Linked DNA regions of Homo sapiens. The protein of the gene in region 1 interacts with the protein of each later gene in a pairwise test. Each region holds a gene or a part of one and is shown on either strand. Other genes may lie near its edges.

The links. The genes of interacting proteins can lie anywhere in the genome.
Region 2: the proteins of CYP39A1 (region 1) and HERC3 interact in binary tests that used the Homo sapiens proteins (3 or more experiments, as listed by UniProt).

Annotation. Positions count from the first base shown.
Region 1 is NC_000006.12:46,586,561-46,594,536, forward strand, and holds part of CYP39A1 (24-hydroxycholesterol 7-alpha-hydroxylase), read right to left. Parts: intron 1,570-7,976; coding exon 1,474-1,569; intron 606-1,473; coding exon 517-605; intron 1-516. UniProt on the Homo sapiens protein: A cytochrome P450 monooxygenase involved in neural cholesterol clearance through bile acid synthesis. Catalyzes 7-alpha hydroxylation of (24S)-hydroxycholesterol, a neural oxysterol that is metabolized to bile acids in the liver.
Region 2 is NC_000004.12:88,587,514-88,595,914, forward strand, and holds the start of HERC3 (probable E3 ubiquitin-protein ligase HERC3), read left to right. Parts: upstream 1-4,966; 5' UTR 4,967-5,061; intron 5,062-8,043; 5' UTR 8,044-8,101; intron 8,102-8,401. UniProt on the Homo sapiens protein: E3 ubiquitin-protein ligase which accepts ubiquitin from an E2 ubiquitin-conjugating enzyme in the form of a thioester and then directly transfers the ubiquitin to targeted substrates.

The DNA of each region.
Region 1 (7,976 bases):
CACACTGAGGAGGAGGGCTGGGTGCCAGATTAATTTAACTATAAAAGGTATCAAAAGAAAGTTTTCACAAGCCAAACTAACACCATAGACAAAAACCACCTAGTAAGTGCCTGCTATGCTCCAAGCCAAAGATTTTCTAGAACCCTAGCAAATATCCATGACAATGTCATAGTGAAAGAAATATAATTCTATCTTTGTTTTTAAAGAAGGTAGCACTCAAACCACTTCCAATTATGTTTGTGTGAAAGCTGACAATTTGAACCATAAACGCTGCTTTGATGTGGCATCTGGCAAGTGTAATGTTCTCTTCTCATAAGGTCTTCTATCAGAAGCCACTTTAGATATTCCCAGAGAGACACTGCACAGGACCACAGATAAACCAGACAAAATGTGTTCTTCTGGATTTCCCTATAGTTTAAATATATATATAAAGAGATTAAGCCAAAGTTGTTCCCCTCTGAGCCATCATCTTTCTGCAGACTTTCTGGATAAATGTGGCCCAGCTGTCTCACTGACCTTGCAGGACACTGGAACTTCCCGCTTCCAAATGCCATGAAGCAGTCCAAGAAAGAGTGCTTCTCTAAATTTGCCTTTTTCCAACGTTCCTGTGGGAAGAAAACATTTTTTTTTCCAAATCAGCCTTATATAAATAAGCTTAACTTTATTTCTCTAGGCTAAAAATGACCTTGTACAGCTAATCCTTGCATATAAAGTTGCAGGGTTGTTGGTAATTTTTTCCACCCTGTTATTAATATTAGACACAATTGTGTTTCTGGAACATGAACTTATAAATAAAAAGGTTTTTAAAAAATTCTGTTAAGTGGTAAATGTAAATGATAAGGTAAATCAACCACAGAATTGACCTAAGAAGAGGAAGAATATTTATAATAAGGTCTCAGGCTCCGTCATAAAATTGCTCTTGGTAATAAATTTAGTAGTAAGACACTGACATCCCTGCCTGTTAGAAAAAGCTTGGGATGCAGAATGAATGCATCTGGATGCCATTTTTGACAGTTTTACCTAAAGGCAGAGAACAGACTAAATGACCTCTTAACATTCTGTTCGGCCCTGTAACTTTCCAGTTCTAAGAAACAGCAGATCACGGTTTTAATTTGCTTTATTTGTATTTTTTTGTACTCCTTGGAAACCAATGACAGAAGCAATTGCCTGAAGAACATGAAATAAGTCTTCTATCAAAAACAGGCTTATTCACTTGAACATGCCCTTCTGGTTTCATGTAAAATGTATTTTAAAGTTAGAGAAGTTTACTACAAAAACTTTTCTAACTGATTTGTAAATGTTGCACTATCTATATTGCAAATCTGTTCTGTACTTTGTAGTCAACTTTGTTCTTAGTTACGAGAGAAATATGGCTGCTTAATTATATAGTCCTAATTAATTTCTGAATTTACCCTTCTGAAATAAAAAGAAATTAAAATGAAAGAATAATATATACTGAAAGAGATAACTTACAGGTTTGAACAATTCAGGCTCAGGAAAATACTTTGGATTTCTATGCAGCCAAAATGGAGACAACATCAACAAGTCACCAGAAGGAATGATGTAATTCTATAACAGAAAAATCAGCTGCAAATCATTTTTTTGAAATATACTTTAAAGAGAATTTGGGCCACTAAAAATGATGCTACAATTATATTGTGGTGAAGATATACCTTTTATAATTGAATGTGAGAAAATCTAATTTTTAATATCTATATAATTATATAATATCTAATTATAAATAATATAAAATCTAATAATATAGTATCTATATAATTCTGATTTCCATATACATATATTTGGTTACATAGAGGAAATTATATAATTCTGATTCACATGTACATATATTCAGTTATATGGAAGGAAATATTAGCTAAATGTCAAAATTTTAGAAACTAGTATAAGTCCCTTCTAATGTACCTTTTGATGTTTGATATTAGGGTTTGTGGCCAGAGTTCTTGAAGGCAGAAACTACAGTGGAGGCTCAGGTTATGAAACAGAAAAATTGGACTCTGAGACAGGGACAATGGCCATGGTAGCACTGAGAAGAGGGGCAGAGGATGTCCTGTTCTTGTGGATACTAATGACAGTGTTAGAGCAGGGGCAGTGGACTTTTCTTTCCTCAGTCCAGCACCGGTTATTAGGAAAGAAACAAATGAAAAACGACTGGTTAGGAAGACACAGGAAAAGGCAAGTGTTGTGTATTTGTTTGGTTGGGTTTGTGTTTGGGGTCACAGTGCTTGTGGAAATGAGGATAAACAATGTGTTTCCTCAGGTAGTCTACATTATCCTTCCTGATTCATATGACAACAGATTTTCATGATCTATAAACTATACAAAGAACTAAAACCCATTTCACAAAATCTCCCTATCATCACCATGTTCAGGAATCACAGGACAAAGAGATCTCCCAAGTTTTATAATTGCTAGATAGCTACCAACTTTACTAAGGTAGAGATATTTTATTAGGTAATTCCCACTGCCCATCATCATAAGCCACATCTATTTAACCGTGTATAATTTTGAAATGTCCTCAAGATATTTGAAAAACTTTTACTTTAGGTTTACTTATCCAAAGCATAAACACCTTACAATTAAAAACATGTCTTCTGCTGGGTGTGGTGGCTCATGCCTGTAATCCTAGCACTTTGGGAGGCCTTGGTCGGAGGATCCTTTGAGCTCAGGAGTTTGAGACCAGCCTAGGCAACATAGGAAGACCTTGTCTCTACAAAAAAATGAAAAATATTAGCTGGGGATGATGGTGCACCTGTAGTCTCAGCTACTTGGGTGGTTGAGACAGGAGGATTGCTTGAGCCCAGGAGGTTGAGGGTACAGTGAGCTATGATTGTGCCACTGTACTCTAGCCTGGGAGACAGAGTGACATTCTGTCTCGAAGAAAAATAAAAATATGTCTTTTACTGGTAGCTATGAGTGGAGTATGGGTAGGGATGTCATCATTTTTTTAACCCAGGAGAACCCCTGTTGGCTCTAGTGGCAGCTGAGTATTGCTTGAGATTTGGCAATTTCAGAACTGGGAGAGCTGGAGAGACTCAAATCCAAGACTGGGAAGACAGTGAAGCTTTTGCAGGTACCTTCTATCATTTTAAAATAGAGAGACCTGTGAGATCCCAATCCTGTCTGTTTTACTTCCATTGGAACTGAGGCTAGAGAGGTCATTACTGACTCTGGAATCAGCCACAGAGGGCCGTGATGTGTATTTGAGAGCAGGGTTGGGGGCAGCACAGGGATGGGCCTTCAGTCAGGACAACCACAGCCCTTCCCCTTCCCACCGCAAAGTCCTCTTAAGTTGCTGTTGACCTGTGATCATGACTTGGAGGCTGCTGACTGTTGTAGCCTATAAAGCAGGTTAGCAAAGGGAGGAGAACTTCATACAGGTCCTCAGTAACAGAATTACCACTAGCAACAGGGAGGAGACAAGAAAGAGGTGCCTGTTGCAGCAGCAGCAACTGCCAGACTGATAAATAGCATGAAGGAATGAATGCTGGAGCTGGTTCTGTCAAGAAACCCTCTGAGCAAGCAGACATCATCACGCCCAGCCTAAACAGTCCCTATCTTTACTTACATGACAGATGAAGTGAAAGATCAAGAGGGAGGCAAAACAGTTGCAGAATGAGAACACAGATCACTAGCAAAGGGAAGCTACAACTTCTGTGTGTTGCAAGAACTGCATCTCTCAGGTAGACAGAATTGAGCCTGGCCAGCCCACCTCACCTGGATGGTGTGAAGCCAAAACAAGCTTCATCTGATAATCTAGAAGTGGGGCTTTCTTTAAAAAAGGAAGAGAAGGCAGGACTCTGTGTTGTAATTCAAGAAAGGTGCTCAGAGCTAAGTGGGTGCCAGGAATACATAATCTTAAAGAGAAAGGAGGAGTCCAGAGGCAACACATCTATAGCAGGAGGTCTAAAGCACACAGCCTTTTCTCCTAGCTTTCAACCAGAGGCTTGGTTGGTGTTTGTGCCGAAAAAAAATAAAAACAAAATAAGTATTTTTTAAATTAAAGAGTATATTCTTTTGTATGATAAAAACTTATCTCTACAAAAAGTTTGGAAAATTCTGAAAAGCAGAAAAACTAGAAAAGAAAATCCAGAGTTCTGACACCCAAAGACAGTCATTAACTAGCTAGATTTCTTTCCAGTATGTTTACTTAGTATTAATAGGAGATATTTTGTTGTTGTTAAACTTTAAACATAGTTTTGATCCTCCTGAATAACCAATTTAATCTTTCTTAGTTCTCTTAACTTCATAACCTGTTTTCCCTTTTTATTGTATATTCATGGTGAATATTTCTTCCTCCAATGACTGTTTAATCTTCCATTGGGTACATTAAACAATAATTAATGTAATCATTCCCTACTTTTTTTCCTGTGGTAAATAGTGCCACCATAAGCACTTTCTTCCACACAGCATTTTTCCACATAGATTCTGTTAACACAGATGTTCAGATGACACAGGACATGCATATTTTAAGGCTATAAATGCATGTTATTCAACTGTTTCCTCAAATTTTGTAGCAAAATATATTTCTAACTATAATTTATGAGAATGTAAGTTTCATTACCCTTTTATCTGTAATCTAACATTTCTAATGGTTGTTTTAGGTTTACATTTTTATGTTTTTACATTTACATTTTTATGTTTGAGAGTTTTTCCATTTATTTTATCCTATAAACTTTTATGTTCTGTCCTGATTAACCTATGTGACACTCATTCTTATTGATTTGTGTCAGTTCTTTAAATATTAAAATTATTTATAGTTGTGTTGTATATTGATGTTTACATTATATTCACATTTGAGTTACACTTTTAAAAAATGAGACATTAAATTTTGCTATGGTACATTCAAATCTGTTTATCCTTTTTGTGGCTTCATTGATTAATCTTAAAATCAGGCAGTCCTCTTCTTTTTATAAAATAAATATAGTTAATGTTTTAGAAAACTATGTATCATGTTAGCATGTAAGAGGTTTTTGTTATTTTAAATGAATCACCAAATTAATATTTTAACAATTTCTCAGTTTAAATTTAAAATATAGCTAATATTGATAGATTTAAAATAGACATAGACAAAAACTCTTTGGGATCTTCAATAATTCTGAAGAGTGTGATGGGATCATGAAACCAAAAAGTTTGAGAACTTCTACTTAAGAAGTTTAAAAAAAACCCACTTTTAGTCAGTCATCCCAAGCCACATATTAATTTCTTCCCTTTACATTGATTTATTAAAAGAGTCACTTATCCTACATTAAATTATTATGTATAAGGAAGCTAATTCTTTGTTATCTTTCCAGTTATTTCTATTGATCTGAACATCTGGTCTGACACCGGGATCATAACATTTTAATTCTTTTGGCTTTATAACAGGTTTTAAAGGATAATTAATATTTCTCAATTACTCATCTTTTCCAATACTCTTTTTTGTTACTCTTTTCTGGATATTCTTGAAGATAAACTTTTCTACTAAACATATAAAACCTTGAAAAGAGAACACAGGTAGAAGTTTCAGAGTTTTAGAAAGGTAGCATAATAAAGAGAAAGAAAGAATGCAGTAAATCCAAGAAAGTAGAGAGTGTTCGTCCATTTCAATTCATTCCATTTCCAGGAAAGGGCACAGAGGCAAAAGCAAACAAAGAGAGCCTGTTCGAACTACCTTAGGGAAGGGTGGTGGGAGAATACTTCTAGTATGCATAAAAAGGAACATTGACCAGTTGCCCAACAGAGGAGAAAATATGAGCCTCTGTCATTACTCAACATAGATAAGCCCATGTGAAATGTGTTTTAAAATACAAATTTCTGGGAACATATCGTTAAACTTCAGTTCAGCAAAAACATTCCACCTGTTTTTGAAAACATATGAATCTTGAAAGAACCAAATTGTATGAATTTATACTAAGGAAATAATTAGTAATGTATACAAGGATTTAGCTAAAAGGATGTTCATCTTCACACTGTTTATAGAAGTGAAAAATTGGAAGCCACATACATATGCAAGAACAGGGACTAGTTTAAAAATGTATACTATATCCATATATTAGATGACTTTGCTACCAATTCAAAATTGTGTAGATGTGTTTTATTAAAACAGAAAACTTTTCAGCTGAGCGTGGTCGTTTATGCCTGTAATCCCAGCACTTTGGGAGGCCAAGGCGGGCAGATCACCTGAGGTCAGGAGTTCCAGACCAGTCTGGCCAACATGGTGAAATCCTGGCTTTACTAAAAATACAAAAATCAACTGGGCATGATGGCACACTCCTGTAATCTCAGCTACTTGGGAGGCTGAGGCAGGAGAATTGCTTGAACCTGGGAGGTGGTGGTTGCAGTGAGCCAAGATCATGTCACTGCACTCCAGCATGGGCAACAGAGATGCAAATAATTACCACATTAACATAACCACAAAGTAAAACAATCTAAATTCTGAAGAGTCAAAAACTACTAAATATTTATGCTTTCAAGAAAATGGACTATTATGTGACCACTGAAATAAATGTGAAAACTCTCTAGATGCATAAAAAGTGAAGAATTAGTGTTAAAAAAATTTTAATGACAGATTTACACTATGCTGAAACTTTGGTTTCTATATTAATGTCATACAAAGAGAATATTAGATAGTTGCGGTAGTACATTTAAGAGGTTGTGCAGATGGGGTATTGTGCATGCAAGAGTATACATCTGTGTGCATGTGTTTGAGCATGGGTATCTCTTCTGGCAAAGTTGTCAAAATAAGTAAAATTACTTTTGAAAGAATATGGGAGGTTAATAGCCCCAACAAAAGTTACAACTCCCTTTATAACATAATCCTGACTAATACATGAGGTTAAAAGACCGTGGAAGAGCTACTTGTAGGTTGTAGTGAGCTGAGATTGTGTCACTGCACTCCAGCCTTGGTGACAGAGACCCTGTCTCAAAAAAATTAAAATAAAATAAAAATAAATAAAAGTATGAACTGTTGAAATCCCACAAAAACTAAATACTCTAATTTACATAAGGTCAGTTAAATAAATCATGTCTCCTTTGGAAGCAAAAGTTTCAACTTTTACAAAATTTGGATTTTTATCTGTGTTCTATTACAAAATTTCCTTGGTTTGAATCCAAGCACTCTCAAGCTGCATATAAAAAAGCAAACAATAGTAGAGGACTGATTAAATGTGATCCATTTGGATAATGCAGGCCCTAAGTCAAATCATTTCAAAAAAAATAATTTGTTATGCCATATTGATTCACAAATATTTAACTAATAAGTCTGCCATGTGCACATACCCTTTCATGGTGCACTTGAGAATTTCCTCCTACTTTGTCCATAGAAAATCCTCTCACCTTCACTCAGCTGCTGCCTCCTAATATAAATTGAGATTATCCAATATATTCCTGTTATCTGTTCCCATATCTGTAATCTGTGGCCTAAAATTGTCTTCCAGCTATGCAAAATAACTTTCTTCACATCCTGAATTCCTTAGCTCATTGGTGCTAAGAAATTCATGTTGGTTGAATCAGTAGACAAGAGACCATTCAATTCACCTGCCTGATTTAAATAGGATTATATTGATTCTGATTCAGAATCAGATGGCCAGAATGATTATTAAAGGGTTATTATGTTTTACTTAAAGTACTTGCCATAAGATAAATATCTATATTAATGAAACATTGCTACACAACTCTTATTAATAACCTGTTCTAGGGTCATTTTGTGCTCAATGGAATTCAAGAAATTACATAATATATGCTATCAAAATTCTAATGACATTTTTACAGAAATAGAAAAAACATATGAAACTACAAAAGACCCTTGAACAAAGAAAAAACCTGAATCATCACACTATTTGACTTCAAAATATATTATAAAGCTACAGTAATCAAAACAGCATGGTACTGGCATAAAACCAGGCACATAGATCAATAGAACAGAATAGACAGCCCCAGAATAAATACACACATTTACAGTCAATTGAATGTCAACAAAG
Region 2 (8,401 bases), on another chromosome or scaffold:
CCATTTATTAGGTATATTTGCTGTGTTTACAGATTTTTATGGCCAACCTATAAAGCTGTCTAATATTGTTATAGGTATGCCTTCTTGAAATTCCACAGGTTCACTTTAGCTTTTCTAGGAAATAACAAAATTCCTTAAATTTCCTTTGACCCAGATTTAGTATAACTTCAAAGGAAGGAGATTTTTTTCACATTTATGATTTTATTTTGGTTTTACACAAGTAAATTTTGGAAGACTATGTTTCTTTGCCTCTAGAAGGGTGAGACAGCTGCCTGATTTTTGGCAGTTACATGCATGTATTCTGTGCAGCTACATGATGACAAACGTGATCTTTGCTGCTTTTGCCCAAGCACTTATTTTGCCAGTCCAGTCATAGTGAAATGTGGGATGCCATTTCTAAGAGCACATATTAAGGGACTTTTTAAAAGGAGGAACCTTCACGAAATACTTCACTTCCTAAAGGCTTTATTGGATGAAATCTTCAGAGACCAGCTAATGCTCAACTTAAAGGTTTTCTTAGAAAATGTTCAACCATCCAATCCTGTTATCATTAATACATTTTAATTTATATGAAAACAATGAGTTTCTCATAATTAAGGTAAGATTCTTATGCTTCATCCAAATGGCTTGATAAGAAAAAAATGCAAACAAACCATGAATAGTTTCAAGGAAGATAGAGAAATAATCATAAGGGCTGTAAGCTCTTTGTAGTCAGGAATGATGCTTCTTGTCTAGCAGTACTACAGGTGGAACATATTCAATAATATTAAAAGATTATTTGATGGTAATACTGATTTACCATAATGTTTTTATTCTAAGTTGTTTCATATTAATAAATCAATGCTGTGTGTTACAGGACAGTTTTTAATAAGTTTAGTCTGGGTATAGATAGACTGATTTTTCCATTAAGTACTGACTAGACTGAGAAAGTAAGTACTTCTTTTGGACGTGGGGGACCAAGAAACACCTTTGTCATTACATAACCATACAAGGTACACATACTTTTTACTTGTCAAATAATCAGTCAGTGCTTTTCCCTCCTAAAGATATTTATTCTTCAATGGTGTATCTGAGAGACAGAATGTCCTGGGTAGCCTGTTTTTTTCCACAGATTTCATCCAAGATATCAGAAATCTATCTCTTTCAAAGTTTACCAAGTAAATATTTGTCTGCAAGGCAAGTAAATTAAACAAAGGGAAGAAAGGAAAACAATTATCATTAAACAGTATTACCATTCTATTGAAAAATGGTTTCATTTGAAAATAGATGTATTTTAAGAAGTGAATGGTAACTAATGGAGGAAATCAGCATGTGTTCAGGTAGAAGTGCAGCAGCCCTGGGCACCATCCCCTTGCCACTGGGCATACCTTGTCTAACCAGTGATAGAGCTGAACCACATGGTCCTGTCCCCCTGTCAAAAGTTATGGTTAGTTTAATCCTTGCTCCTCGGGAGGCTAAGGCAGCAGGATTGCTTGAGTCTAGGAGTTTGAAGCCAGCCTGGGCAACATAGCAAGATCCTGTCTCTTAAAAAAAAAGTTATGGTTATATGTGTGTGTGTGTGTGTATGTGCACGCGTGTGTGCGTGTGTGTGTGTGTATTTGGAGTCTCCTCTGTCATCCAGGCTGGAGTGCAGTGGTGCCATCAAAGCTCAATGCAACCTCGAATTCCTATGCTCAAGCTATTCTCTCACCTCAGCCTCCCAAGTAGCTAGGACTAAAGGCGTGCCCCACCATGCCTATTTTTATTTTTTGGAGAGACAGGGACTCACTATGTTGCACAGGCTGGTCTCAAACTCCTGGCCTCAAGCGATGCTCTTGCCTCAGCCTGTAACCCAAAGCCCTGGGATTACAGGGGCATGAGCCTAGAATTTATTAAGCCTTTTATTTTTAACATGAATGTTTTTCTTTTATAAAATTTATACAGGTTAGCAAGTATATATTCCTTGGTACAATTATTTGGTTAATGTTTGTCTCCCCTTTCATGGCAACAAAGACTGTACTGTTTTGCTTACCAATGTATTCACAGGGGCTGACATTATTGTAGGTGCTCAGTATATAGTACGTTTGTTAGAGAATATATGAGAATGCAGAAAGAAATGGATGGAAGACAGGGCTATAGAAATGGAAGGAAAAAGTAAACCATGGCCTCTTCAAAACAGTTTACGTATCTGCTGTTAAGACTATTGCTGATGCTGGAGCCATTTAAAGCCATTTTGAAGCAGGACATGCTTGCTAAGGAAATTGTCATTATATGTTGTCCCAATGAAAAAAAATAAATCGAAGTACTGTGGTATCTTTACTGTTCTATGTAAGTTCTATGTAAGTTCTCAGGGTTTGGCTATTTATTTGGTAAAAGAAGCTTACAGTATCCTAACTTGTTATTTATACATTGCTCCTATCCCATTTCTAGGCTTGAGTCTTTGATAACCATCCTTTTCCTCAAGATGAAATTTCATATGAAAAACACTTGAGCCGGCCGGCACGGAGGCTCACGCCTGTAATCTCAGCACTTTGGGAGGCCGAGGTGGGCAGATGATTTGAGGTCAGGAGTTCTAAACCGGCCTGGCCAACATGGTGAAATCCCGCCTCTACTAAAAGTACAAAAATGAGCCGGGTGTGGTGGTGAGCGCCTGTAATCCCAGCTACTCGGGAGGCTGAGGCAGGAGAATTGCTTGAGCCGGGGAGGTGGATGTTGCAGTGAGCAGAGATCGCGCCACTGCACTCCATCCCAGGCAACTGAGCGAGACTCCTTCTCAAAAAAACAAACTCCGGGCGCGGTGGCTCACGCCTGTAATCCCAGCACTTTGGGAGGCCGAGGTGGGCGGATCACGAGGTCAGGAGATTGAGACCATCCTGGCTAACATGGTGAAACCCCGTCTCTACTGAAAATACAAAAATTAGCCGGGCGTTGTGGTGGGCGCCTGTAGTCCCAGTTACTCAGGAGGCTGCGACAGGAGACTTGCGTGAATCCGGGAGGCGCAGCTTGCAGGGAGCCGAGTTTGCGCCACTGCACTCCAGCCTGGGCGACAGAGCGAGACTCCGTCTCAAAAACAAAAAACAAAAAAACAACAACAAAAAAAGAAAAACACTTGAGCCATGGGCCAGACATATCAACCCAAACACTGATTGATTACAAACCTCATATGTGACACCTAACAATAGGATCTCTCACTTTCTCCTTTGCAAGTACCGGACTCCTTCGTCTTCCTACCAGACTCCTCTTTGGGCATTTAACCAGTTCTTTTGCCAACAGCATCTCTAAATTGGGATTGCATCTTTGTAATAGACTAAACTTTTGTGAAACTGCCACATATCTGGAATATAAGTGAATTGTGTTACTCTTGTCCCCAGTGTTTCTTTTTTCCTTTTTCTTTCTTTTTTTTTTTTTTTTGAGACAACGTTTCATTCTGTTGCCCAGGCTGGAGTAAGTACAGTGGCTTGATTTCAGCTTACTGCAACCTCCGCCTTCCAGGTTCCAGTGATTCTCCTGCCTCAGCCTCCTGAGTAGCTGGGACTACAGGCGCACACCACCCTACTCGGCTAATTTTGGTATTTTTTTTTGTAGAGACAAGGTTTCACCATGTTGGCCAGGCTGGTCTCGAACTGCTGACCTCAAGTGATCCACCGGCTTCGGCCTCCCAAAGTGCCGAGATTACAGGCATGGGCCACCGCGCCTGGCCATCCCCAGTGTTTCTAAACGTGTCAAGTGTGATCCAAATTTCAAAGGTTTGGATTTTTTCTTAGATGACCTGATAACTTAGATTCTGCTTTTTTAGCTTTCTTGTCTCAGTGTACTGGACAATTTGCATTATTTCACGGAGGGCTCAACACTGTCAGTCAGCCAACAACGTCTCATCCCCAGGATACACCACTCCTTGAAACTTTCTTTTCTACTTGGTCAGTCTGTTAGGTTCTCAGGACGAGCGATTGCAGACCTGAGGTGATTTGAATGTCCTTGGTAAGAATCTATCCTCAAAGGGCCTTCCTGCTTCAAATGCCAGGTTATAGAAATTCTTCCACTGGGAGAGTTATTCCTTTGGATTAAAGCAGTACCGTGCCAGTGTTCTGCATTTTACATTTAAGGGGGGCAGACACATGAAGTCACCTTTCTGAGGTTTTCTGCAAAAGATTAGCTGTGGATCAGATCAGGTCTAGGGCAAGTATGAAAGCACTAGTGACCTTGGGGAGGGGGAGGAAGCTCTGGGATTCGGCGCTAGGGAAAAGTGGAAGAGGACAAACTTTTAAAAAATCCGTTACTGGGTATAGGCCACAGAGTGTCTTTCAGATTACAAGATTTTAAGATCTGGTGCTCAGACTCTTCTTGCTATGCTCCCCCCGGGTCCACCCTCCAGCCTCCCCCAGGCCCGCCTTTCTTCCGCAGCCCCGTGCCGGTCTTCGATCCCCACCTCTCCAGAAGAGCGCCGGCGGCTGCCGCGTACCTCCTTCCCCGCCTCTCCCACCGCGCAGCGCCGCGGGCCGGCGCCGCGCTTCCTACAGTCCTACGAAGGGGAGTAAAGCAGAAGACTAGCGCACTCTCCCTCAATTGTCACCCTCCAGCTTTTTCCCCCGTGCCCAAGGCTTTCGGTCACCTCTTCATAAATAATAAAAACCAGAGTCCAGAACCTGAATAGGCAACCGCTGATCGGTCCAGCTCGCTTCCCCGCCAGTGAAAAGCAATCTTATTTCAGCGTCAACGCTCTATGTCTTGCAGTCCGATTTCGGCTGACACACCCGTGCCGCTGTCCCCGCGCCGGGCCCTCGAGTCCTGTCACCTCGGGCAGCCTGCGCCTGGCTCTGGGGCCTGGGCCTCTCCCCTCCTCCTGCCCGCGGACCTTGCCGCCCCGCCTCCAGCCCGTGCCACGGCGGCCGCCATTGGCGCGGGCCCATCCCAGAACGGCGCCCATTGGCCCGGTGCGAAGCCATTCACCCAGCGCATTCCGCCGCCCGCAGGCTTGCGGGGAAACTTCCTTATTATTGTGACGCCGAAAACGGAGAAACCCCGGGTCCGGCGAGAGGGGCTGTGACAGTCGGAGTCCCAAGCTGCGGTTCGGCTGCTGCCGAGGTGCGCAGGGCGGGGGCCGGGGTTCCAGGGAGGGGGGTACGGCGGAGCTGCAGCCGCGCTGGGCCGCGTTCCGCCTGGCACTGCAGTCAGCGCGCGGCTCCCGGAGGGGCGGCTGCGGCTCCTCCCGTGGCTCCGGCGGCGGGGGCTGCAGGCACCTCCAGAGACGACCTGGGTCTGGGGCGCGGGGAGGTTGGGGCGCGGCGCCCTTAGTACCCTGCGTACGCCTCCCTGGCGTTCTCGTGGGCTCGCCCTCCGGTCAGAGAGCCCCGCGCCGGGAAAGGCGAGACAAGCCTTCAAAATGGGAGCGCCTCCCGCCCGCGCTCGGCCGCCCTCCCGCCCTGCCGCCCGGGAGGAATTGCGACGCAGAAAGTCAAAAGGAGGATAGTCCCTATGCTCGCCCCCTGCCCCTATTTAAATTCTGGGGTTCCAGGGACCTCCGTGCAGTGAGGGGCGCGGACGCTTTCAATTGAAATGGGAGCTGGCGAGGCCCTGGCATTTTGGGGAACCTCAGCGGCCGCGAGGAGTTTGCGCCGAGGACGCGGTGCACGGCGTCCGCGATGACAGCGCCGGCAGGGCTGCGGGGCCCGGCACCACCCACTTCGCGGAGGCCGGGCCGGCTCGCCTCTCCCGGGTCCGCCTCCTGGGCGGGGCCGGGGGCGAGGGTGTGTGCGGACACGTGTGTACGGGTGTGTGTGTGTGTGTACGCCGACACGTCGGTGCGGACCGACGCGGGGGTGTCAGGAGCTGGGACGGCCGGGGGCAGGTGAGACTTGAGTCATTTGTGAATGTGTGGAGTGGGCAAACCAGGGCAACCAGACCGAGAGGAGCATGTGTAACCTGAAACAGGTGAGCCTATGGAGACAGTACCTAATGCGACTGTGCACGGAATATGTGTATGCAGCATGAGCTCCAGGGAATAAGTATTTGAACTTTGCTGTTGGTCTGTCACTGTTTCTGGCTGCTTTCTGATTGCATTTTACATCAGCTTTCAAATGAGCTCAATTAGGAAGTACCTAATTCAGAGAAAAGCCTTCCAGGATTTTGCTTGCATTCATCACGCATAGAATGCTTTGGGAAAGACGATTCAAGAGCTCTCTTCCATTTGTATGTGTCTTCTGGCTCTTTCCACAAATAAGAAGCTATTTCTAGAACCTTTTATTTGATGATTAGATAAGATCAAGTGAGCTGATTTTTCAACTCTAGACTTGAGAGAAATGAAAAAATAAAAAGTTTTAAATGCGGTGATCGGGTATCATGTTTTAGTCGGCAGATTACTGTGAAGCTCTCTCCTTTTGTACTTTCCTTTACCCTGGGGGAGGAGGGAGTAGCATTATAAATCAGAAAAGCAAAGTACATGGATTGCATATCCTAAAGCAAAATAATTGAATTACATATTTTACATCATGGTCGTACCGCCTTCGAGGCTAGGAACTTTCTGTAAAAAGTATAATGCAGGGAACAAGGAGGACAGGTTAGAAACCTCTTTGGCAGAACTCCTTTGGCATGAAAAACAAAATTAGCACATTAGCACTAGCATCCAGTTCTTGTTCAGTAAGTAGCTGGAGTTTACTTTTTGAAAAAGAAACAGGGATTTCAGAATGTTCCATGTTGTGTGCTTGAAGCCATTCGTTATAGCATTTCATTCTGAAGACCAAATTTAAATTTCTTAAGATTTGTATGACCAATTAAAAACTTTTTTTATACTTAATGAGAGTAGTAGTACCCCTACTGGAGACACAAGATAGTTATGCTTCAGTTTTATAAGTAAAAGTACTATTCTCCAGATCGAATGGGATTTTCTGCATAGAGAGGTAGAAATAAAGTTATGACAATATCTTTTCTTTCGAGATGGGGGGTCTCGCTCTGTTGCACAGGCTGGAGTGCACTGGTGCGATCTCGGCTCACTGCAACCTCCGCCTCCCAGGCTCAAGCGAATCTGCCACCTTACCCTCCAAAGTAGCTGGGACCACAGGCGTGCACCACCATGCCCAGCTAATTTTTTGTAGTTTTTGGTTTCGCCAAAAGACGAAACGGGGTTTTGCCATGTTGCTCAGGCTGATCTCCAACCCCTGGGCTCAGGCTGTCCACCCGCCTGGGCCTCCTAAAGTGCTTGACAAAAATATCTTAAAATCATGGAGGACTTTTTCTTTTGAGATACTTTAGGTATCTCTCTGAGATGATCTCTTCTCATTTTGCATGATGGAGGATGTGGTAATGAAAAGGGAAAGACCGGGTGCAGTGACTGGCTGGGCGCAGTGGCTCACACCTGTAATCCCAGCACTTTGGGCGGCTTGAGACGGGTGGATCACTTGAGGTCAGGAGTTGGAGACCAGCCTGACCAACATGGTGAAACCCCTTCTCTACTAAAAATAGAAAAATTAGCTGGGCGTGGTGGCGGGCGCCTGTAATTCCAGCTACTTGGGAGGCTGAGGCAGGAGAATCGCTTGAACCTGGGAGGCAGAGGTTGCAGTGAGCCGAGATCGGCCACTGCACTCCAGCCTGGGTGAAAGAGCCAGACTCTGTCTCAAAAAAAAAAAAAAAAAAAAAAAGAAAAGGAATGAAAGGAGACAGTCTTCATAACAGTTGTGGCAAAACAAGCTGCTATGTGTCATACATGGAAAAATAAAGAAAATAGACAAAATTTAATTATTTTCCAAAATTTTCTCTAACAAAAATGGGAGATTTTAAAGTAATTCCATTTTTACTACTCCCTATCAAATGTCAGGAATTTTTATAAGGTGATATCTATATCTCTAGTTCACTTTTAGAGGTGATTGATGTCTTTATAACTGGTTAGAGGTTATCTTACTGGTATTTAACCAAACTCCTGTCTTGAGATACAATGCGTGGGGAATATTCAAGATTGAGTAATTTAAAGATATTCTTATTTTCAGAGGTTAACTCCTGTCTTTTTGTTTACAGTAACATGAAGACACAACAGAGTTCCATACTAATGTTATTTATTATTTCTTTAACTTGCAGAACTGCAAGGTGTGGAATATTTCTGGCTTCTAGTCCAATGCCAAGTGTGTGACCTGTGGTGAGTTACTTAATTTTTCTGGACCTCAGTTTTTCATCTTGTAAATGGAGTCCTTTACATGCATTATCCTGTTTAATACTCTCATCAACTCAAGCTAGGGTAGCTACCTAGAGAGGGACCTAAACAAATCTCAGTGCCTTCCTGCTGCTCTAAGATAGTGAAGAGAACAAGGTGAGCCCAAGAAGTAGGAGACCTGGTTTCTGGTCTCTGCTTCAAGCACTTAATTCTTTTTTTTTTTTTTTTTTTTTTTTTTTGAGAGGGAGTCTGGCTGTCGCCCACGCTGGAGTGCAGTGGCGGGAT